Regions from separate parts of the Homo sapiens genome. Here region 2 is linked to region 1. The links come from fine-mapping of genetic effects on plasma protein levels. A gene starts in region 1. The other region holds a variant in brackets. All regions are shown on one strand. Distances are from middle to middle.

The links. PIP is the chance, under the fine-mapping model, that this variant and not a neighbour inherited with it causes the effect. Protein levels are from antibody-based Olink assays in UK Biobank. Linkage for the fine-mapping came from a reference panel and not from the study's own genotypes, which makes the PIPs less certain.
Region 2: its variant is fine-mapped to the plasma level of the SEMA4D protein (UK Biobank, PIP above 0.99). The variant lies in the coding sequence of SEMA4D. If it changes the protein, the assay may bind it differently, which can mimic a change of level.

What each region holds. Positions count from the first base shown.
Region 1 is chr9:89,495,757-89,501,119 of GRCh38, reverse strand. SEMA4D (semaphorin 4D) reads left to right here and starts at 3,007. Exons shown (of 16, transcript NM_001371194.2): 1 at 3,007-3,201. RefSeq lists silencers at 2,918-3,107, 3,538-3,687.
Region 2 is chr9:89,385,731-89,391,093 of GRCh38, reverse strand. SEMA4D (semaphorin 4D) reads left to right here. Exons shown (of 16, transcript NM_001371194.2): 10 at 2,047-2,222; 11 at 2,302-2,458; 12 at 3,486-3,708; 13 at 4,612-4,727. Among named protein-coding and RNA genes, the nearest start is that of SECISBP2, 70 kb to the right of the region's middle. RefSeq lists an enhancer at 1,510-1,679. The variant G/A (reference allele first, on the strand shown) is at 2,330.

The DNA of each region.
Region 1 (5,363 bases):
TAAGGGGGTGAGAGGTAAGGCAAGATTGGAGTTCATTTAGCTACTTTTATTTTTATTTTTTGAGACTGAGTTTTGCTCTGTCGCCCAAGCTGGAGTGCAGTGGTATATGATCTTGGCTCACTGCAACCTCCGCCTCCCGGGTTCAAGTGATTCTCCTGCCTCAGCCTCCTGAGTAGCTGGGATTACAGGTTTGTGCCACCATGCCCACCTAATTTTTGTATTTTTAGTAGAGACGGGGTTTCACCATGTTGGCAAGGCTGGTCTCGAACTCCTGACCTCAGGTGATCCGCCTGCCTCAGCCTCCCAAAGTGTTGGGATTACAGGCGTGAGCCACTGCACCCAGCCTGCTACTTTTATATCTATGTTTGAAATGTCCCACGACAGAGTGTGAAACAAGAATAAAAAGGCAAGCTTGGTCACTTTGGGAGACATAGGCAATCATGCTGAGAGAAGGGAACAGGGAAGAAGGTCAGAGAGGAGGGAAGAGGAAGACCTAATAATGGCATCCAAGTCCCGGTTCTAATGGTACTTGGGGCATCTTTGGATGCAAGTGAGCCAATAGTATGGGCTGAAGTTCTATCACTTACAACTAAGAGTCCTGTCTCCTTCATGAATGCAATAAACATGTTTGGGGGCAATTTTATATAAGCACGGTGCAAAGAAGCCCTTGTGTTCGCAGCCTGGGCATTGCGGAAAGCTTTTTGGAGTTTTTACTGAATTCTCTCATGTTCTTCTGTATGCATTAGGAAACAGGCTAGAGAGGACAGTATTCTGGAAGGTCATGATGCCAGAAGTGTGGGCCCCAGGACAGCCATGCAAAGTCTCTTCTTTGCCCTGGGCTGCCCTCTATTAGATTCTGAGCATGTGGGTCTAAAAGCCAGGAGAGAATTCAGCAGTTGTTGAGAAGCATACCCCTCTGCTGCTGGTCCCCTCCCTGCAGTGTGTTCCCAAGGTGGCCCCAGGCCTGTCTAGACGCTGGCTGTGAAGGGCACGCTCCTGTAGGGGCAGCCGGCTCTTCCACAGTGAGGTCTGTCAGAAAGCGCCCACGATAGGCAGGAATCCACTTTCTCATCTAATTTCCACCCATCTGTCCTCATTCTGCCCTTCATAACACCACAGAGTAATCCTTCTTCCCGGGACAGTTTTGCACATATTGGGGTTCTTCTGTCTTGTGCTCCACACATTGATTTTCTAGGCTGAAGACTCCCGGTGGGTCAACTCCCCTCCCACGGGATACTGCTGGCTGCCTTAGACACCAAGCAAGGGCATGGTATTCTAGATGTGTCTGACTAGTGAGGAATAAAAGAGAGTCCCCCCACCCCACCCCAATCAGTGCAATGCTTGCATGTGTAGATCCTAAGCGTGCATCCCTCCTTGGGTATAGAATGCTGTTAAACCAGTTCTGTCCTAATCCGTTCCCATTATGTTTCAATCCAAATGGGATGTGGAACATGGATTCATGGACCCCTACAATTGGAAAAGAGCTTGGAAAAGACTTCTCTAGTTTTTCCTGTAATAGTCACCAGCACTGAACCCGAGCACACGGTGCAGTGGGCTTTACCTGCCATTCTCTCTCCGTGCTCCCCAAACCCTCCAGGACGACCACACTGTCCTCATGTTGCAGGGTACAGAGGTTTGCTGAGGCCTGAGGTTATTTGGAAACTGCAGAGCTGTGAGTCAAGGGAGTCTATCAGATTCCAGGTCTGGATTCTTCAGCAAGAGGGTGGTGGCTGCCATGCCGTAGAGGGAGGAGGGGGTGCGTGCTCCACCCCACCCTGCTTGACACCAGCTTTGCCATCTTAGCCTTTGCTGGGCCGAAGCCCTATTCTCAGAGCTCCGGCACTGAACCACAGAAACCACAGGAGGCCCTAGAACGGAACTCTGAGACTGTTGGGCCTTTAACTCTGTGACTGTTGGGCCTGGGACTGGCTTCATTTGTAAACTCTGGCTCTCAGAGCCAGTGCTCAGCAGGAAAACAGCCTCAGGGCCCCTGCCCCTCAACAGCAGTCTGTAGTCCAGGGAGGTATCACCTGGCCTGGAGAGGGGCTCCCCAACTCCTCACATTTAGGGGAAATCTTAGCTGGTTCCGTAAGAAACTGTGTCCCCTTCTCAGGACTGTGTTCCTCAATAGGCCTCCCAGCCTGGCCAGTCACTGTGCGAGCCCTGTCACCTCTCCTGGGGGCAGAGGGAAGAGGTCTGGATGGAGCAGCACCATCTCTGAGGGCCCCCAGATCCCCAAACCCATGGGCTAGTCACAAACAAGTCTCACCAGCAGCCTCACAGGAGGACCATTTGCCATACAGAGTGGAAAATGATGAACGTTTGGCAAAAGGCTAGCACGGGGGTTCAGGGAAACCAAGACTCCAGGTGGTGCCAGCCCCTCCCCTGGGGAATGGGAGCAGCCTGGTGTGAAATATTCTTGCCCAAAGTCAGCAGCCAAGTGTTCTGGGTGCCACGTGCCTCACGCACACTGCAGGTCAGGTTCTCAGAAGAGCTGGCCCAGGGTCTGGGGGTGAAAAAAAACTGGGGGATTTGGGGGAGGCCTGGAAAGGGTGGGGTTCATCCAGGACCCCAGAAGGGGCAAGCTTGTCTATTGAGAGCTGGTGAGGAAGAGGGTGACAGGGCACCTCTTGGTCCTGGGAACGGGTGCTTGACTCAGCAGAGACCAACCCAGGGCTGAGGGACAACCCTCTGGGCCTGGCGGGGAGGCAAGAGAGATGGGAGGTGAGGAGGAAGGAGTGGGGAGCAAAAGTGGGGAGAAGGGGAGAGAGGTGGAAGAGTGTTGCGAAGGTGAAGAAAGAGGAGGAAAAAGAGAAGGGAGGAAAAGAAAGGTTGGGGGAGGGAAAGGAGGGAGGTGAGCAGGGGCGAGGAGGAGGGAGGAGGAAGGAGGAAGAAAGGGGCGGGGCCATAGGAGGGAAGAGAAGAAGGGGGAGAGGAAGGGGAAGGGAAAGGGGAGGAGGCGGGAAGGGAGGGGGAGCGGAGGAGGGGCCTGCGCGCCCGCCCCGCGCACTCCGTCCCCGCGCCGGCCTCAGCGCTCTCGCGCGCCGCAGCATCCCAGCCGCCGCTGCCGCCGCCGGGCCTCCCCGCCACCCCCTCCCCGGCCCGGCCGCCTCCCGCCGCTGCCGCCGCCGCCGCCGCCGCCATTCCTGGCGCCCGAACTCGCCCGGCCGGGAGCCGCCGCGGGCAGGACGCGCGCTGCAGGTAAGCGGCCGGGCTGGCGCGGGAGGGAGGGCGCGCGGGGCCGGGCAGGTGCGCTGGGGGCGGCCTGGACCCTCCGCGGAGCCCCCACTCCACACCCCTAGGCTCCTCACCGGACCCTCGGGGCCCTCCCCGAACCCCTGCAGGAGCCTCCTTCTGGGATCCCCGGACCCCTGGACTCCTTCCTGGATCCCCCCGGGGCCCCTCCTGGGACGCCTCCCAGAGACACCTACCCGGACCCCTCCGACCCCCTGGACCTCTCTGCTATCCCTCCCCGGCCTTCTCCCCTTCCCGGTTGCCTCCCCAGTCCCTGCGCGCAGGTGGCTCCTCTGGGCGCGGGGGAGCGGGGGCGCGCTGCATACCCGGGCCAGGGAGGGGGCGGTGCGCTCGGCCAGGCCCCGTCGCGCCCCGGCCCGCCCAGTCCGGCCCCGCCAGGTCAGGCCCCACTCCGGCCAGCCGGGCTCTGGCCGGGCCCCCGCGGGCTTCTATTTTGGTCGCGGAGGCCGCGGACCCTGTGCACTGGACCCGGCGCCGCGCACTCAGACAGGTGGGGCAGGTTGGGCCGCAGTGGTCAGGTCGCCGCCTTGGCAGTGAGTGCTGCAGGCCTCGGTTTCCTTTCGGGTTTTGGTTGCATTATTCTAGAACAGCCCAGGAGAACCACAAGCCTTAGCTTGGGCTGCACCTGTTGCAGCCGCCTAGTGAGCTGCAAGGGGCTGGCTCTACTGGGGTTATGCCAGTAAAAACGTGTAAAGGAGAGTTGAACTCGTGGTTGTCCTCTATTTTCTGGCTTAGTATTTTGGGGGGTAGGTGGGAGAGTGGGTGAATGGGAGTCTGTAAGTGGGCAGTTTGCGTCAAATGAGGCCTGGTGTCGAGGGCTGGGTCCTGCTTTCCGGAAGGTTTTCCACATGAAGTTGCTTTGCTTTTGTTTTGAAAACCTCACTCTGTGTTGAGCACATCCCAGGCTCGTGGGTGGCCAGGCCCCCGAAGGCCAAGCTGGACGTGGGGCCTGGGGCCAAGCATCTCACCCTGCTGTTCTGAGTCTTTTCAAATCCACCAGGCGCCACGGAACGGAAGTTTCCTTTCCTGGGGGTGACGTGACACCAGTGGCCTGTCACCTCATATGTGTCCTAGGCCTGGGGCCTGCCTGCTGGCTGCCCAGGCGAGGTTATTTGGGAATGTTTACTGTGTCCCAGAAACAGGCAGCTCTGGCCAGTGCAGGGGCAGGATTCTGGTAGAGATGATAATGCCCTGATTGTCATTTTGACAGTTGGTGTCTGCGTATATCATGTCTTGGTAGTCGTCAGCCAGAAGAAGAAAGCAGGCGGGCTCAGCATACCCACCAGGGAGGCTGGGGTGGGAAGATGAGGGATGCACTGGCCTGTTTCTGTGAGCAAAGACTGCCCTCCCATAAGGCCAGACCTTCAGACTGAGAAGAGTGTACGTGGTACACTCAGCGAGTCAAACAAAGAAATAGAAACACATCACTGGTGCCAGGAGCAGCCCTGGGGTCCCAGGAGGGTGGGCCGCTTAGGAGTTGGTAGACGGTGGAACTCAGTGGCTGTATTTCAGAGTGCAGACAGGCAAAAGGCCACCGTGGGGATGCAGAGCCCCAGCTGCCATGCCAGCCCAAGGTCTTGCAGCACAGCACAAGGGAGGGACTCCATGGGAGGGGGCCCACCTCCTGAGAAGCACACCCAGAGTCTGTTGAAAATGCAGCCTTGCACAGACCCCCCTGAGTGCCTGGGGTCCTGGGCTGAGGTTTAGAGTGCAAGACCAGCGACCATGTTGCATTTGATATCCAGTGGGTCTGGGGCCAGGGAGATGTCCTTGGTGACATCATCCACTTGTGGACAGTCCTCTCCATGTGGACCGCTGGAGGCAGATGTTACCTAGAGCCGCTTTCCCCACACCAAGCGGGTGTGTCTAGGCCAAAGCTTGGGAGTGCACGCTAATGGCCAGCTTTGACTGAGGAGGGAGGGAACGTCCGCTGCTGACAGCACAACAGCAAAATCAATAATGCATTGCAAAGATCAATGGTTTTCTCTATCTTCTGTGCTTCTGCATTGAGGCTGTTCAGGCTTCTGCCTCTCTTGGTTCCATTTCTGTTGGGGAGGGAGGGATGGGCGGGTCCAGGAGGGTGGTTGCAGATTCTCCTCCTGACCCCT
Region 2 (5,363 bases), 110 kb after region 1:
AGGGAGTGCTGGCCCCCATGTGTGACCCATTAGCCTCCTCTTCTCAGGAGGTTCTTTCTTTTAATGCACCCTCTTCAAACCTCTAGCTTATAAAAAGCAAGGCTTTGTGGAATGTATTCACCAGAGTCTGTTGGAATTTCACCATTTGGCTCTTAATCTACCTAAGAGTGAAACATTAACCGACAGCTTAAGATTAAGAAGAGAGAACCAATACAGAAGTTTGTCAAAACACAAATCTTTAAGTACATTAAAAGGGGAGGGTGCCTTTAAAATGACACACTGTAGGCACAGTGCTCAGCACAAGAGAATGGCCTATGGGCTTGATTACAGGAAATCTCAAGGTTGCTCAGTGGCAGTTTCCAGGAGGTGGATTGTCAGGCCTCAGGGGAGCTGGGGGAAACCACATGAAACACAGCCGCCATGTCCCTGGCCAGGAGCTCATCTCGGAGCAGGTAGCCATTCGTCTCTCATGGAAATTGGTAGATAGTTCTTGCGTGGCCCTTTCTCATGTAGTCATGACCATCAGGACATCAGAGAAGCAGGGTTCCTTTCATGCCTATGGCGCACAAAAGTGGGTGCCTTTGACACCGTTCCCTTAACAGCCCCTTGCATAAGGAAGAAGGTTGGGTGATGTGCACACCTGAGTATCCACCTGGTGCTTTGCTCCCTGCCCAGGCCTTCCGTAGCCAGGGCTCACTGACCAGATCCTCCAGCTGCCCCGCAGCCCCGCAGCCGTGGCTGCCATGCTCCTGTCTTGCAGACCAGGAAACCATCCTATCAACAGTATCAGTGTTGGGGGCAAGCCAGTGCCCCTTGAGATGGGGAGGGTGCTGCAGGGCCAGAGCTCCTGGCAGGCGTGCACAGTGCTCAGAATGCTGTCAGAGCAGCACTGGCCAGGGGACTCGAGCCCTCCCCTGCCATCGGGAAGCCAAGGATCAGACTTGCCTTGACCTTGACTTATTACCCAGCACTGAGGGTTTGCAGCAGGATCAGTGAGCAGATTCAGCGATGCACAGAGCAGCCACCTCCACCCCCGACAAGTTTCTACAAGTCTTAGGCACACTGCTGTCATCCCCTCTGATCCCTTTTTTTTCCCCATACTTGTTTGAACTCCTGGACTAGGGTGGTTTGAGCTTAGGCCCCACAGCTCCTGCCTACCACGCAGGCACACATGAACCCTTCACCTGCTGCCCGTGACCTGAAAGCCACATGAGACCCCTGACGAAAAATGTGCTAGAAATTATTCTTTGCTAAAACATCAAGGAGGAAAATGAAGTCCTTTTATCAAAAAGAGAATTTGGGCTCCTGTAATCACACAGCAGAGATGAAGGGGGAACATTTTCCCTGTGTCCAAAATAAGTAAGGCTGCTTCTATTTCATATTCTTCTGCACTCAGGTTTTGTGGTTTCAGTATTTCTCTCCAGACCACACACAGTCATGTGTAGTTTATAATTGTGTCTTGGTCATCGGATCCCTGAAAAGCGTTTATAAAGAACTTAGGTTCAAAGCACTTTAGCAGATACTTTGGGTAGAAAGGAAGTGAAGGATCTATTCCTTTAAAGGGAGGAAGGTTCACACATTTGCCCAAGACAGGCTGCAGGGCCGGTGGCTGTCCCCTGGAAGGAGGCTGCCGCCACTTGCCCCACCCAGAGCATGTTCATTGATGGGCCCTATGTCAGGAAAGTCACACAATGCCAGGGGCCTTGGCAGTTGGAAGTGTGTGAGCACGGCAGCACCTCTGCGGTTGCAGGACTGAATGCTGGGCACAGGCAGGCATGGACGATCAAATGAGCTTTCAGTGAGAGGGCTTTTGTCCGTTTTGTTTTGTGTGTTAACCCAGGAGCGTTCTGGGATCCAAGCTGGAACCTGGACGTGGTGCTGCGGGCCACTCACATAATTGCGGCATCTGTCTCCTGTTGCCCGAGCTTTGTTTCAGTCAGGCACAGCCGCGCTGTGCTGGGCCATGGAGGGGTGCACCTCTGACCTTAGTGCTTGCTCACAGGGGATCCACTCTCGGCCCACCACGTCTTCTTGTTGGGGTTTTAGGGGGACCAGGGCGGCCTGAGGACCTTGCAGAAGAAATGGACCTCCTTCCTGAAAGCCCGACTCATCTGCTCCCGGCCAGACAGCGGCTTGGTCTTCAATGTGCTGCGGGATGTCTTCGTGCTCAGGTCCCCGGGCCTGAAGGTGCCTGTGTTCTATGCACTCTTCACCCCACAGCTGTAAGTGCCCTGGGTGGAGTCCCCCTCCTTGCTCCCTTGATGCCGCCAGGTGGTCCCGTCACCTCTTTCCCCTCCCCAGGAACAACGTGGGGCTGTCGGCAGTGTGC[G/A]CCTACAACCTGTCCACAGCCGAGGAGGTCTTCTCCCACGGGAAGTACATGCAGAGCACCACAGTGGAGCAGTCCCACACCAAGTGGGTGCGCTATAATGGCCCGGTACCCAAGCCGCGGCCTGGAGCGGTGAGCTGGGGCACTGGGGGCGGGCCGTGCTTTCCCTTCAAGGCCCAGGGCATGGAATCCAGTACAGGCACTGGGGCCTGCTCATGGGCTGGGTACCTGGCCACGCCAAGGCTCTCTGCATTGGGACAGGGACGGCCGATGAGCACAGCTCATCCTTCTTCCCTTTTGCATGTTACGTAACAGCCATTGCTACACTATTGCACAAACAAGAAGGCTGGGGCAGCTGTTTTGCACAATTAACATTGCATAACAATTAGGTCTGTTTCATTTTCAGTTTCTTACAGAGAAACACATGATTCCTTGGCAAAGGCCTCTGCACTGTCCACTAGTCAACAGGAGTCACATTTTTTCCTCCTAAATATAGTGAACTTTATGTAGAAATTGGGAATTTCCAGGCCGATTCCTTCCCTCACATGGGGAAATGGGTGTGACAGGCATGTGCACAGCCCTCTGTGGGGCTGTGACCTACATGGGGTGTCCTGGCCCTCAGAGTTCACTGCAGCACCAGCTCCCTCCCAAGGGCAGCTGTCCCTGACACCATCATGGCTCCTTCTATGCATAGCTTCGTAAAATGTGTTCACTCATGGTCACAGATTTTGGTTTACACACATCAGGGAGCTAGAACAGGAAAAAAGAATCCCTCAGGCTCTTATGCTATTTTAAATTGTCCTGGTTTTAGCCATGTTTAGCATTCTTTTCATGAGAAAGCTGCAAATCAGTGTTCTGTTTTTTAATTTCAAAAGCTCAATAAGTGTTTTTCACTTACAAATAGATAAAAATTCCTTCCCTGAGTATGTATCGTGAATGCAATTCTGTCTTGCAGATGTGTTTTATAACTGTGTCCTCTGCTGGCTGGGGAGAGGCCACCTTTCCTCATAGTAAAGTTATTCACTGCTACCCTCATTTCAAGGCATGCATTGTGTGGTTTCCAGGTTTTGCAGCCCCCCCTGCGTTGGCTGCTTGTGTGGAAGCACCCGTTGCGTGGTGGGACACGAGCACGTTAACAGCGGGGATTTTCTCCCTGCAGTGCATCGACAGCGAGGCACGGGCCGCCAACTACACCAGCTCCTTGAATTTGCCAGACAAGACGCTGCAGTTCGTTAAAGACCACCCTTTGATGGATGACTCGGTAACCCCAATAGACAACAGGCCCAGGTTAATCAAGAAAGATGTGAACTACACCCAGATCGTGGTGGACCGGACCCAGGCCCTGGATGGGACTGTCTATGATGTCATGTTTGTCAGCACAGGTGGGTTCCGAGGGCTTGGCAGGCTTGACAGTGACAGCACATCTGTGTCCTCTGGTAGGAAAACTGGGAAATCCAATTATTCTTTCGTGAGTAGTTCCATTGCCTCCCTCGAGGTGACCTGGGAGGTTTGTGGGAGCGTAAGAAGATTTCTGAGAAGTCACCACACCAGGTGGCTTTCAGATCTGGGACCACCAGGCTACTGGAGGTACTTGTTAAAAATAAAAATGCAAGTCCTGGCCTGTGGCTGGGCTGGGCTGGGGCAGAGGAGTACTGGCCGCCGAGGAGTTGGGGCAGTGCCCACGCAGGGGGCAGGTGTGAGCCACCTGGGAGGAGGCGTCAGCCTGGCGTTTCCTGACTGCTGGCAGAGGACCACGTCCCTGCTTCCTGGCCGAGGAGCCAGGTTTTAGATGTGCCCTGGCATGTGGACTCTGAAATAAGCACTTCTGGAACAGGGACAGGGGCCAGGAGCCACGGTGGCTGGCAGCGCATTGTGGCCTGCCCTTGGAGCCTCCCAGCCAACCTCACATGCCCCCTGTCCTCACCGCCTGCCTAGGGCACTTACCAGTGACACCCCGAGGGCTGGTGGAGCATGGGAGCCCCCTCATGTGGCACTTAGCCTCAAGTGTAATGTCGACTGTTGGTGAGGATTCTTGGGGTCAACCATGGAACAGTTTATTTTCCTTGGAAAAAAACTGGAATAACCCATAACACTTGGGTTTCCAGTTGTCTGTTTTGCCAAAGCCTTTTCCTTTTTTTGTTTCTAATGCGAAATCATCATTGTTTTCTAAGTATCTGTGGAGGGAATGACTTGAGAGTGAAGAGTGTGAAGTTTGCCGCTGTGGTCACTGTCCTTGGTTTCTGTGTCTGGGTTAGTGTCACTGACCTGTAGCTTTGGCCCTGCAGACCGGGGAGCTCTGCACAAAGCCATCAGCCTCGAGCACGCTGTTCACATCATCGAGGAGACCCAGCTCTTCCAGGACTTTGAGCCAGTCCAGACCCTGCTGCTGTCTTCAAAGAAGGTAAAGTGACGCAGGCAGCTGGACCGGGGGCTTCTCCGCTCGGTGGCTTTGATTCTAGGTGACAGGAGAGTTGGCAAGCTGGAGTCGGGCTCCTGGGCAGGCCCCTCTGTCTGTCTGCCCTGGGTGAGCCAACCTTCAGAGTTTGACACAGAGCCATTCCGTGAGCTGTGGGATCTGAATTGGGGAAGGCAGGAAGGCAGACCTGGGGAGACGGGACTTTCTCTTCGAAGTTGCTGGAATGTCATTGAGTTGTTGGTGCAGCTTTACAGGCTGTGGAGAGGTGGGCACTGCTCCATGAAGACACCTTTTTATGCCCTGAGCTTGGGGGGTGTGCAGACTGCATCTGTGGGATATGATAGTGATACAGCTGACTCGTCACCGTGGAAAATCCACAAGAGAAGTGGTTCGTCTCATCTGTAAAGCTGTCTCCACCTGTGGCTGAGACTCTGGTCTGGCCTGCAATACTCCCAAGCAGCCCTTGGCAGGGGTGGGTGGGCGGGCATCCACGCTGGCCTTTAGGGGGCTGCCTCCCTGGCCCTGGCTCCTAACGGGACCTCCAACCACCTTGTGGGATCCAGGCCCAGTCAGTCCTCTCCTCCCTCAGCTGGGAGCAACAGGCAGAGGAAGAGGGCCCCT